3 separate regions of the Homo sapiens genome follow, and regions 1 and 3 are each linked to region 2. Evidence: fine-mapped expression QTL. A gene starts in region 2. Each other region holds a variant in brackets. All regions are shown on one strand. Distances are from middle to middle.

Region 1 (4,215 bases), 32 kb before region 2:
ATTGGCAGGAACCTGTGAAAAATAAAAATGTAGGGCTTCTTGTTCAAAAATTATCCAGAATATCAAAACAGCAGAGAATTAAGTCAAGTAAGTACCAGGCTCTTCTGAGAATGGACCCTGTGCAACTGCACAGATCAAATGTCCGTGAAACCAACTGTGTTTAGACATATTCAGTTCAAGGAGAGTGTATTGTCAGGGAAAAACCTTCAGAGATGATTCTTCCAGCAAAGAAAAAAAAAAAAAGTGGGGAGTGGAACAAGCTTCCCCTATACCTCAGTGTGGCAGAGACCCAGGGACAGAAAACCCTGGCAGCTGGTGAAGACAGAACCTCTCAAAGCAGAATGAGAGGCAACGAGCCACAGTACATCTCCCAGATAATTAGAGACAGTGATTGGAAATAAACTGAAGCTCGGCCTGGTGATGGGTATCAGAGGAAAGCAAGAGCGCCTTAGCAACATAATTAACAAAGGCTCTAATCTAGTCTTGAGCAAGCATATTTATTAACAAGCTAAATATAGATAGATACTAGTACACAGTAATAACATCAAACATATTAATATGTATATGCTAACATATTGAAATTTATGTACATATACATGTATATCTATCTTTTAGCCATTTTCTCCTTATTGTCTTTATCCCATAGCATTTAAATACTGCCAAATATTATATATTACATGTATATACTACTATTTCATATATATTAGTATACAATACTATTTTATGTAATATATTTAATATTTTATAAAATTGTATATAAATTATCTTATACAATATATGATTGTGTATGTAGTACATGTGGCTTTTTTTTTGAGACAGAGTCTTGCTCTGTCATACAATATATGATTGTGTATGTTAATACATGTGGCTTTTTTTTTTTTTGAGACAGAGTCTCACTCTGTCATACAATATGTGATTGTGTATGTAATACATGTAGCTTTTTTTTTTTTTTTTTTGAGACAGGGTCTTGCTCTGTCACCCAGTCTGGAGTGCAAGGGCGCGATCTCAACTCACTGCAACCTCCACCTCCCAGGTTCAAGCAATTCTCCTGCCTCAACCTCCTGAGTAGCTGGGACTACAGGCACATGCTGCCATGCCTGGCTAATTTTTTGCATTTTAGTAGAGACAGAGTTTGTGTGCCCAGGCTGGTCGGGAACTCCTGAGCTCAGGCAATCTGCCTGCCTTGGCCTCCCAAAGTGCTGGGATTACAGGTGTGACCCACTGCGTCCGGCCAATACGTGTGTATTTTATACTATGGAGGGACCTCATGGGTGCACTGAAGGAAGCATTTAGACCAGTGAATTTTTTTTAACCTTTATCTTAGGTTTGGGGTACAAGTGAAGGTTTGTTAAACAGGTAAAAACGTGTCATGGGGGTTTGTGGTACATAGTATTTCATTACCTGGGTACTAAGCCCAGTACCCAATAGTTATCTTTTCTGCTCCTCTTCCTCCTCCCACCCTCCACCCACAGGTAGGCCCCAGTGTCTGTTGTTTCCTTCTCTGTTTCTTGGTTTCTCTTTTTTACAAGACACAGTTTTACTCTGTCACCCAGGCTAGAGTGCAGTGACACGATCTTGGCTCACTGCAACCACCTCCCAGGTTCAAGTGATTCTTGCACCTCAGTCTCCTGAATAGCTGGGATTACAGGCATGCACCACCAGCCTGGCTACTTGTTGTATTTTTAGTAGAGATGGGGTTTCA[C/T]ACCATGTCGGCCAAGCTGGTCTCAAACTCCTGACCTCAAGTGATTCACCCGTCTTGGCCTCCCAAAGTGCTGGGATTACAGGTGTGAACCACCATGCCAGGCCATTGTTTCCTTCTTTGTGTTCACAAGTTCTCATCATTTAGCTCCCACGTATAAGTGACAACATGCAGTAGTTGGTTTCCTGTTCTTATTTTAGTTTGCTAAGGATAATGGACTCCAGCTCCACCCATGTTCTCTCAAAAGACATGATCTCATTTTTTATGGCTGCATAGAATTCCATGGTGTATATATACCATATTTTCTTTATTTAATCTGTCATTGATGGGCATTTAGGTTATTTCCTGTCTTTGCTATTGTGAATAGTGCTGCAATGAACATTTGTGTGCATGTATCTTTATGGTAGAATTATTTTTATTTCTCTGGGTATATAAGCAGTAATAGGATTGCTGGGTCAAATGGTAGTTCTGCTTTCAGCTCTTTGAGGAATCACCATACTGCTTTCCACAATGGTTAAACTAATTTACACTCCCACCAACAGTGTACACATGTTCCTTTTTCTCCACAACCTTGCCAGCATCTGTTATTTTTTTACTTTTTCATAATAGCCATTCTGACTAGTGTGGGATAGTACCTCATTGTGGTTTTGATTTGCATTTCTTTGATGATCAGTGATATTGAACTTCTATTCATATTCTTGTTGGCTGCATGTAGGTCTTCTTTTGAGAAGTGTATGTTCATGTCCTTTGCCCACTTTTTCATGTGGTTGTTAGTTTTTCTCCTGTAAATTTGTTTAAGTTCCTTATAGATGCTGGATACTAGACCTTTGTCAGATGCATAGTTTGCAAGTATTTTCTCCCATTCTGTAGGTTGGCTATTTACTCTGTTTATAGCTTCCTTTTCTGTGCAGAAGTTCTTAAGTTTAATTAGATCTCACTTGTCAATTTTTGCTTTTAGTTGCAATGGCTTTTGGTGTCTTTGTCATGAAATCTTTGCCTGTTCTTATGCCCAGGATAGTATTGCCTAGGTTGTCTTCTAGGGTTTTGATAGTTTTGAGTTTTACATTTAAGTCTTTAATCCATCTTGAGTTGATTTTTGCATATGGTCTAAGGAAAAGGTCTAGCTTCAATCTTCTGCATATGGCTAGCCAGTTATCTCAGCACCTTTTATTTAACAGTGAGTCTTTTCCCCATTTCTTGTTTTTGTCAGCTTTGTCAAAGATCAGATGGTCATAGATGTGCAGCCTTATTTCTGGGCTCTCTATTCTGTTCCACTTGTCTATATGCCTGTTTTTATACCAGTACCGTGCTGTTTTGCTTACTGTAGCCTTTGTAGTATAGTTTGAAGCTGGGTAACATGATGCTTCCAGCTTTGTTCTTTTTTCTTATGACTGCCTTGGCTATTCAGGCTCCTTTTTGGTTCCATATAAATTTTAAAATAGTTTTTTCTAGTTCTGTGAAGAATGTCTTTGGTAGTTTGATACAGATAGCACTGAATCTGTAAATTGCTTTGGAGAGTATAGCCATTTTAATGATATTGATTCTTTTTATCCATGAGCATGGGATGTTTTTCCATTTGTTTGTGTCTTCTCTGATTTCTTTGAGCAGTGTTTTGTAATTCTCTTTATAATTTGTAATTGAACAATATTTTGCCAATTCTTTCACCTCCCTGGTTAGCTATACTCCTGTGTATTTTATTCTTTTTGTGGTAATTGTGAATGGGATTGTCTTTCTGATTTGGCTCGAGATTTGGCTGTTGTTGGTATATAGGAAAGCTCAGGATTTTTGTACATTGATTTTTGTATCCTGAGACTTTGCTGAACTTATTTATCAGCTGGAGGAGCTTTTGGGCCAGGACTATGAGGTTTTCTAGATATGGAATCATGTCATCTACAAACAGAGATATTTTGACATCCTCTCTTCCTTCTTGGATGCCCTTTATTTCTTTCTCTTTCCTGATTGCTCTGACTAGGACTTCCAAATTTACATTGAATAGGAGTGGTGAGAGAGGGCATCCTAGTCTTGTGCTGGTTTTCCAGGGGAATGCTTCCAGCTTTTGCCCATTCAGTATAATGTTGGCTGTTGGTCTGTCACAGATAACTCATTATTTTGAGGTATGTTCTTTCACTACCTAGTTTACTGAGAGTTTTTAACATGAAGGAGTGTTGAATTTTATCAAAATCCTTTTCTACATCTATTGACATAATCATGTGGTTTTTGTCTTTAGTTCTGTTTATGTGATGAATCACATGTATTAATTTGCATATGTTGAACCAGACTTGCATCCTGGAGATGAAGCCTACTTGATCGTGGTGGATAAGCTTTTTGATGTGCTGCTGGATTTGATTTGCCAGTATTTTATTGAGGATTTTTGCATCCGTGTTCATTAAGGATATTGGCCTGAAGTTTTCTTTTTTTGTTGTGTCTCTTCCAGTTTTTGGTATGAACATCATGCTGGCCTCATAGAATGAGTTGGGGAGGAGTCCCTCCTCCTCGATTTTTTAGAATGGTTTCTG
Region 2 (4,249 bases):
GAATATTCATCCGTTGAGAGGGACACTAGCCTAGAAGCTCAGCACTTTCTGAAAAGAGAAGCAGCAGGAATAGAAGATGTGTGGAGAGGAAAGAAAGTCAAAGGCAGGCTCCTGCAATGCAAAGGTGCCAGGAACAACGGTGCAATCCCAGGCTGTGTAACACAGGATGGAGGAGGGAGATCTCACTTTTATTGTAAATAGCAGAATTCTTTAAAGGTAGCTACATTAGCAATCAGATCTCATAGATGCTGGAAACACAAACACCTCCTTTCTCATTAAGGGTAGGGGGATCCAGCATAATTTCTCTGGACCAGGAAGATGGAGGAGTCTTACTTCTCTTGCCTTCCAACTGCATCCCCCACTCAATCCTAGATTGCACAAGGAAGTCAACACTACCTCCCCCAACAAGCTCCAAATCCCTCTCTTCACAGCATTGTCAATTGAATCTCTTCATCCAATCTTGGAAACAGTCTGGAAAAAGAAGCAGAGGAGAGAAGAAAGGGGAAAAGTTCAAAAGTACTTTAAACTCTGCCAAAAAAAATCAATTAGTACCAATATACACAGAGAAATGAATGACAGAAGTCATCGCAGCAAGGTATTTCCTCATGACTCCTTCAACTGGCCAGGGCCAAACCAAGGTGTGCAAATAATCTGAGCAACTGTACACTTTGGCACACCTTTGCTATGTATACATACCTTCAATATGTATTTACAGAAGCTGGAAATTGCACAGGGCAGGACCAGGAAAGAACGGGCAGAAATGTTCAACTGCATGGCCAATGTCCTGAGCTTTAGCCCCAGAGTTGTGTGTCCTACTCTGAAGCCCTACAAGTCATAGGACCCATTCACCCCAGAGCCAGTGCAGCCTATTTCTTTGAGATCTCAGTCCCATCTCTCTAATGGTATCAAAGAACCCTCCATTTACATTTAGTGCTCTCTTTGAAAGGAGCCATGATAGACTTTAATCCAAATTTACAAAAAGAAAAACTGGATTCCAAAGAACGATATAATTAGCATAAATACTGGGACTACACACTGCCACATAATAAAACAGAAAGCATCAAAATATATAATTGTGTATAGCACCTATACACTAGCATAGGTCAAACAGCTGAATGATTAAAGGAGTTTTGTTTTGTTTTGTTTTAATCAGTCAACTAGGAACTTCTTAATGCAGTCACTTTGGCATGATACAAACAAAATCTTTCAAACTACAACACATCTTAGAAACAGCAAATACTACTGCTGTTCACGTAGCAAGGAAGGTTACAAGTAAATCTCCCAATATCTCAGGTGTAAAGAAGTGTTCTAACAAGGTCCATTTGTATTAAATCAAATCACCAGACTAAGGCATCTATTTTGCACCACTTACTCAGAGCAACAGACAAAAAGACAGGCCTTTGGGTTTATTTATATAAACATTCTTCCACAGGTAGTCACAGAGGAGGAAGGAGTACAATGTAATTTGATGGTGGATGAATTTGCACAAAAAGGAGACTAAAAAAGAAAGATTATTGTGACCCAACACTCACTCTTTACTTTTTAAAGTTGTGGGGAAAAGAAATGGCAAAGCTTTCTATTTCTGTAAGCTTTTGTTGTAAAGAATTGAATAAAAAATAGCAATACCTAATCATCTCTAAATTACTTCAACTAAAAACACCACTAAAGACCTTATAATCTTTTTTTAAAAAATTCATTCTCATAATTTCTTCCTTGGCCCTGAAAACGATGGTTTAAAAATAGCTTGATTTGCATCTTATTCTTTTACTGCCTTTCTACAAATACATTTTGAAATGCTTGCTTACGGAAAAGCTGTTGCCTGCTTAGCTTTCATCATGTATGAGATCACACTATTTCGCTCACCTGGAACTGTCGTGTTCTCTGTTCCCAGCAACGGTCCGATAAGGAGCATCCTTGCTAAATGATATGTTTAAAGTATGTATAGCTACGTGTATTTTCAAATGCATAACCAATTTCTTAAAAGAGATGGTAACTCATGCCAGAAGCAAGGAAAAGATTGAAAGGCAGGCCTGGAAACAGAGCTGGCCCAGTAGCAGCTCCAAATATGTCAAAATGCTAGTGTTATTTAAGACACCGATACAATATCCCTGATGATGAAACAGGAAACGTTCCCTTGCGCCACCCGCAGGGTGTGCAACAGGAGGAGTGGCTCGCTTCTTCCGTGCCCCACTGCTCAAACCTCTAGGGGAGCATGCGGACGGCTGGGTTGTGGGGCTCCAACCCAAGAGCAGTGTCTAGGGGTGAATGTTTACAGCTGAAGCCCCAGTGGGCACACGTGTGTTACAGGGTGCTCTTTTAGTTTTGCCATCTGTAGGCGACTTGTGTTAGTCAGCTCAATTAGACCCCCTGGCTTATCTCAAGGACAGAGGACTTTCTGTATCCCAGGGTCCTTGCCTTGGTGTACCGGAAGAATCAGATCACACGTGGGCTTGGAGAATGAGTTCAAGGTTTTATTGAGAGGAAGTAGCTGTGAGCAGACAGGGGAGACAGAAGGGAGATGGAGTGGGAAGGTGTAGTTTCCTGGAGTCAGGCCACCTAGCGGCCTGGCTCTCCTCCAACCACGCAGCCAAACTCCATGTCCTTCCGCCAGTCGATGGCCTGCCAGGGTCTGCCTGTCGGCGTGCTCTTGTTGACGTCCTCTGGACGTCCAGCCGCTTGTGTGAGTGCCCACTAGTGTTTCGGGGTTTTTATAGGCACAGGATGGGGGCGTGGTGGGCCAGGGTGGTCTTGGGAAATGCAACATTTGGGCGCAAAGGCAGGAGTGCCTGCCCTTACCTAGGTCTGTGGGCACAGGCACCGGGGTGAAGCCCTCGCCAGAGACCTGCTTTCTCCTCCCAGCACTTCCCTGCCCCCCTCCCTTATCAATAACATCTGCATTTGTAGCTGGGTAACCAGGGTATTCTTCATACAGCTGCAAGTATCTGGCTAATATATTGATAGGGTTTGGATCTGTGTCCAGGCCCAAATCTCACGTTGAATTGTAATCCCAGTGTTGGGGGTAGGGCCTGGTGAGAGGTGATTGGATCATGGAGGAGGATTTCTCATGAATGGTTTAGGACCATCCCTTTGGTGCTGACGGCAAGACAGTGAGTGAATTCTCAAGAGAGAGTTCTGGTTGTTTAAGAGTGTGTGGCACCTTGCTCGCTCTCTCTTTCTTGCTCCTGCTTCAGTCACATGAGGTGCCTGCTCTCATTTCACCTTCCACCATGAGTCAAAGTTCCCTGAAGCCTCCACAGAAGTAGACCCAATATGTTTCCTGTACAGCCTGCAGAACCGTGAGCCAATTAAAGCTCCTTTCTTATAAATTACACAGTCTCAGGTATTTCTTTATAGCAATGCCAGAACAGCCTAATACATACATTATGTCTTCAAGTGGGGGTGAAGACATGCTGAACATTTACTTCTTGAAATATCCACTATATGATAGTCAGGGTGTTGTATGTTTAAAGCATGTATGTGTATAGCTTACGTTATTAAAAATTATTGTTTTAGAATAGAAAAAGGAAGAGTGATAAAATATTAGGCTGAACCATATGAAATTGCTGATATTTTATAACTTTTAGTCAACAAAATTCTCAAATGAGAGCTTTGGGTCCAATAAGTTTGCTTTGCCCCAGGCAACTTGCCCCACTAGTGTAATTCGGGGTCAAGCCATGTGCAAGACTATCAGACAGTTTGCACATCCAAGCATGACCACTCCATGCTCTATTATGCTAAGACAGTCTCTGTAACTTTTCTGCTTTGAGTTAAGTTACATAAGTCCTCTTTCTGTTACCCAACATTTGTGGGTGCCAGGTCCCTGAAAGGAAGCTATAGGAGCAGGTAAAAATTCTTTCCATATTTATTTGTGTGGAATTTTTACTTTTTGACTGTATACCAGATGTAAGGAAGTGTTCTTGCTCTAGGGCCATCTGTCATTGCAGAGGTAGGATAGATTCACATAATGATAGAGTAGAAAAAAATAAGTAAAGTGACCCAGGTTTAAATCCTGTCACCTGCTGTTATTGGTTGTGTTTCACTTCTTGACCTACAGAATCCTTGTCTATAAAACTGAACTGGGGACCGTGCCTAGTCATGTAAGTTCATTGTAAAATTCAAACAAAACAAAGTCTGTCAAGGATTTTGAAATGCCAAGATACAACCATGTGATCAGGGAAATTTACATAAAGAACAGAGTTGGGATCATGATATTAGAAAAACCAGAGAGCGATCGGACACAATGGTTCAC
Region 3 (4,249 bases), 26 kb after region 2:
TCTGCTCCTCAAAATGGCCCAATTATCAGGGGGACCAATCAGGCCATTTTTAACTTCATTTTGATTAACATTTTAGTAATGTAACTAAATGCACACACACACACACACACACACACACACACATACATACACTCATTTTCGCCTCACCTTTTGCAGGAAAAAAACAGAATTCCCGTGATCAATTGGCTTTCTGGGCATCGAGTGGAGATGAGCTGCTGAGAGAGGCTGGCACTGATGGACCTAGGCCTGGTTAATATCCCTCTGTTTGGGAAAGGGTTGGATTCTCCTTTTGGATTTCAGACAATATAGATCTCTAAGACTGTGGGGCTGCTATCGACAGTAAATTTCCCAAGGTGGGGGCCACCCCTCTGGCCAGCCAGGTGACCTTCCCTGGGTGAGCTTAACCCTATTCTCTCCTTTAATGCCTAGGTAAAGGAAACATTAATTCTGCATTTCAATGTAATGGAATTAAAAACATCCCAGACTGGAAGATTTTGGCTTCTCACCCACTGGCTGGGTGATTTTAAGCCACTCGCTTTATCTTAGGTGTGTTTTCTCATGTGTAGGATGAAATATTTTACAAATATGAATATGAAAATATGAGTGTTGATAATATGAATTTGAAAGTACCAATATTGTTATAAAACCATCAGCAAAAATCTCAAAATAGTAAAAACTTCAGCATACATAGATTCATCTGGAAGCCCTGCTAAAATACAGATTTCTGGGCATCGCCTCAAAGTCTTCCATTCAGGAGGTCTTAGTGCAGCAGAGAATTCGCATTTCTAGCAAGCTTCCAGATATTGCTGATGTTACTGGTCCAGGGACAAGACTTTGGTTTTGTTTTTTGTTTTGTTTTATTTTAGAGTCAGGGAGTACATGTGCAGGTTTGTCATATGTGTGTATTGCATGATGCTGAGGTTTGGTCTTTTAATGATCCTGTCACACAAGTAGTGAACATAGTACGCAATAGGTTGTTTTCTGACCCTTGCCCCACTGGCACCCTCCCCACTTTTGGAATCCCCAGTGTTTGTTTATGTGTTTATTTGTTTGTTTGTTTGTTTGTCTGTTTGTTTGTTTGTTTTTGAGATGGAGTCTCACTCTGTTGCCCAGGCTGGAGTGCAGTGGCGTGATCTTGGCTCACTACAACTTCTGCCTTCCGGGTTCAAGCAATTCTCCTGTCTCAGCCTCCCGAGTAGCTGGAACTACAGATGCGTGCCACCTCTCCCTGCTAATTTTTATATTTTTAGTAGAGATGGGGTTTCACCATGTTGGTCAGCCTGGTCTCAATCACCTAACTCCAAGTGATCCACCTGCCTTGGGCTCCCAAAGTGCTGGGATTACAGGCGTGAGCCACTGTGCCTGACCCCCCAGTGTTGATTGTTCCCGTGTTTGTGTCCATGTGTACCCAATGTTTAGCTCCCACTTATTAGTGAGAACGTTTGGTATTTGGTTGTTTCTGAATTAATTCACTTAGGATAATGGCTTCCAGCTGTATCCATATTGTGGCAAAGTCATGATCTCATCGTTTATGGCTGCATAGTATTCCATGGTGTATATGTACTACATTTTCTTTATCCAATCGACCATTGATGGGCACCTGGGTTGATTCCATGTCTTTGCTAGTGTGAATACTGCTGTAATAAACATATGAGTCTAGGTGTCTTTTGGTAGAACGATTTATTTTCATTTTGGTATATACCCAGCAATAAAATTGCTGGGTAGAATGGTAGTTCTATTTTTAGTTCTCTGAGAAATCTTCAAACTGCTTTCCACAGGGGCTGGACTCATTTGCATTCCCACCAACAGTGTATAAATGTGCAGAGACCACATTTTGAAAACCACTGGAATAAGCAGTTAAGAGAGTCCTGTATTCAACTAATTTGTAAAGTGGGATTGATAAATTGTCTTGAGTTGTAAAGAAAAGGGTACACATTGTTGCTACGTACTCCTGTAACCACCCAGCAGGTTCTCCTTGCCCACTGCCCAGAGTCTATTCATCCAGACAGGAATTGCAATAGAGAAAGAGTCGAATTCCTGCAGAGCCGGCTATACAGGAGACCAGAGTTTTATGATTACTCAAATCACTCTGAATTTGTTTGGCTGCATGTTTAGCTGCATGACTCCTAAACCATAATTTCTA[A/G]TCTTGTGGCTAATTTGTTAGTCCTACATAGTGAGTCTAGCCCCCAGGCAAGAAGGAGGCTTGTTTTGGGAAAGGGCTGTTATCATCTTTGTTTCAAAGTTAAACTAAAAACTAAGTTTCTCCCATAAAATACCTACGAATTCAACTTACAAGGGATCTGAAGGACCTCTTCAAGGAGAACTATAAACCACTGTTCAACGAAATAAAGGAGGACACAAACGGAAGAACATTCCATGCTCATGGATAGGAAGAATCAATATCATGAAAATGTCCATACTACCCAGGATAATGTATAGATTCAATGCCATCCCCATCAAGCTACCAATTACTTTCTTCACAGAATTGGAAAAAAAACTATTTTAAAGTTCATATGGAACCAAAAAAGAGAGCGCATTGCCAAGACAATCCTAAGCAAAATGAACAAAGCTGGAGGCATCATGCTACCTGACTTCAAACTATACTACAAGACTACAGCAACCAAAACAGCATGGTACTGGTACCAAAATAGAGACATAGACCAATGGAACAGAACAGAGCCCTCAGAAATAACACCACACATCTACAACCATCTGATCTTTGACAAACCTGACAAAAACAAGAAATGGGGAAAGGATTCCCTATTTAGTAAATGGTGCTGGGAAAACTGGCTAGCCATATGTAGAAAGCTGAAACTGGATCCCTTCCTTACACCTTATACAAAAATTAATTCAAGATGTATTAAAGACTTAAATGTTAGACCTAAAACCGTAAAAACCCTAGAAGAAAACTTAGGCAGTACCATTCAGGACATAGGCATGTGCAAGGACTTCATGACTAAAACACCAAAAGCAATGGCAACAAAAGCCAAAATACACAAATGGGATCTAATTAAACTAAAGAGCTTCTGCACAGCCAAAGAAACTACCATCAGAGTGAACAGGTGACCTACAGAATGGGAAAAAATTTTTGCAATCTACCCATCTGACAAAGGGCTAATATGCAGAATCTACAAAGAACTTAAACAAATTTACAAGAAAAAAACAAACAACCCCATCAAAAAGTGGGCAAAGGATATGAATAGACACTTCTCAAAAGAAGACATTTATGTAGCCAAAAGACACATGAAAAAATGCTCATCATCACTGGCCATCAGAGAAATGCAAATCAAAACCGCAATGATATACCACTTCACACCAGTTAGAATGGCGATCATTAAAAAGTGAGGAAACAACAGATGCTAGAGAGGATGTGGAGAAATAGGAACACTTTTACACTGTTGGTGGGACTGTAAACTAGTCCAACCATTGTGGAAGACAGTGTGGCGATTCCTCAAGGATCTAGAACTAGAAATACCATTTGACCCAGCGATCCCATTACTGGGTATATACCCAAAGGATTATAAATCATGCTGCTATAAAGACACATGCACATGTATGTTTATTGCAGCACTATTCACAATAGCAAAGACTTGGAACCAACCCAAATGTCCATCAATGATAGACTGGATTAAGAAAATGTGGCACATATACACCGTGGAATACTATGCAGCCATAAAAAATGATGAGTTCATGTCCTTTACAGGGACAAAAATGAAGCTGGAAACCATCATTCTGAGCAAACTATCACAAGGACAGAAAACCAAACACCGCATGTTATCACTCATAGATGGGAATTGAACAATGAGAACACTTGGACACAGGGTGGGGAACATCACATACTGGGGCCTGTCGTAGGGTGGGGGATTGGGGGAGGGATAGCATTAGAAGAAATACCTAATGTAAATGACGAGTTAATGGGTACAGCAAACCAACATGGCACATGTATACCTGTGCGACAAACCTGCACGTTGTGCACATGTAACCTAGAACTTAAATTTTTTAAAAAAAGGCCTGGCGTGGTAGCTCACACCTGTAATCCCAGCGCTTTGGGAGGCCGAGGCAGGCGGATCATGAGGCCAGGAGATCGAGACCATCCTGGCTAACATGGTGAAACCCGGTCTCTATTAAAAATACAAAAAATTAGCCAGGCGTGGTGGCGGGTGCCCATAGCCCCAGCTACTCGGGAGGCTGAGGCAGGAGAATGGTGTGAACCCGGGAGGCGGAGCTTGCAGTGAGCCGAGATCGCACC

The links. PIP is the estimated chance that this variant, and not a neighbour inherited with it, causes the effect.
Region 1: its variant is the best candidate, but not a certain one, in a credible set for the expression of LINC02218 in whole blood (TOPMed, PIP 0.76).
Region 3: its variant is the best candidate, but not a certain one, in a credible set for the expression of LINC02218 in whole blood (TOPMed, PIP 0.68).

What each region holds. Positions count from the first base shown.
Region 1 is chr5:17,473,412-17,477,626 of GRCh38, reverse strand. It overlaps LINC02218 (long intergenic non-protein coding RNA 2218), which reads right to left. Exons shown (of 3, transcript NR_134270.1): 2 at 1-12. Among named protein-coding and RNA genes, the nearest start is that of H3Y2, 17 kb to the left of the region's middle. The variant C/T (reference allele first, on the strand shown) is at 1,703.
Region 2 is chr5:17,441,849-17,446,097 of GRCh38, reverse strand. LINC02218 (long intergenic non-protein coding RNA 2218) reads right to left here and starts at 2,088. Exons shown (of 3, transcript NR_134270.1): 1 at 1,864-2,088.
Region 3 is chr5:17,416,004-17,420,252 of GRCh38, reverse strand. The region is part of intron 1 of LINC02217 (long intergenic non-protein coding RNA 2217); the gene reads right to left. Among named protein-coding and RNA genes, the nearest start is that of LINC02217, 14 kb to the right of the region's middle. RefSeq lists an enhancer at 3,712-4,249. The variant A/G (reference allele first, on the strand shown) is at 2,144.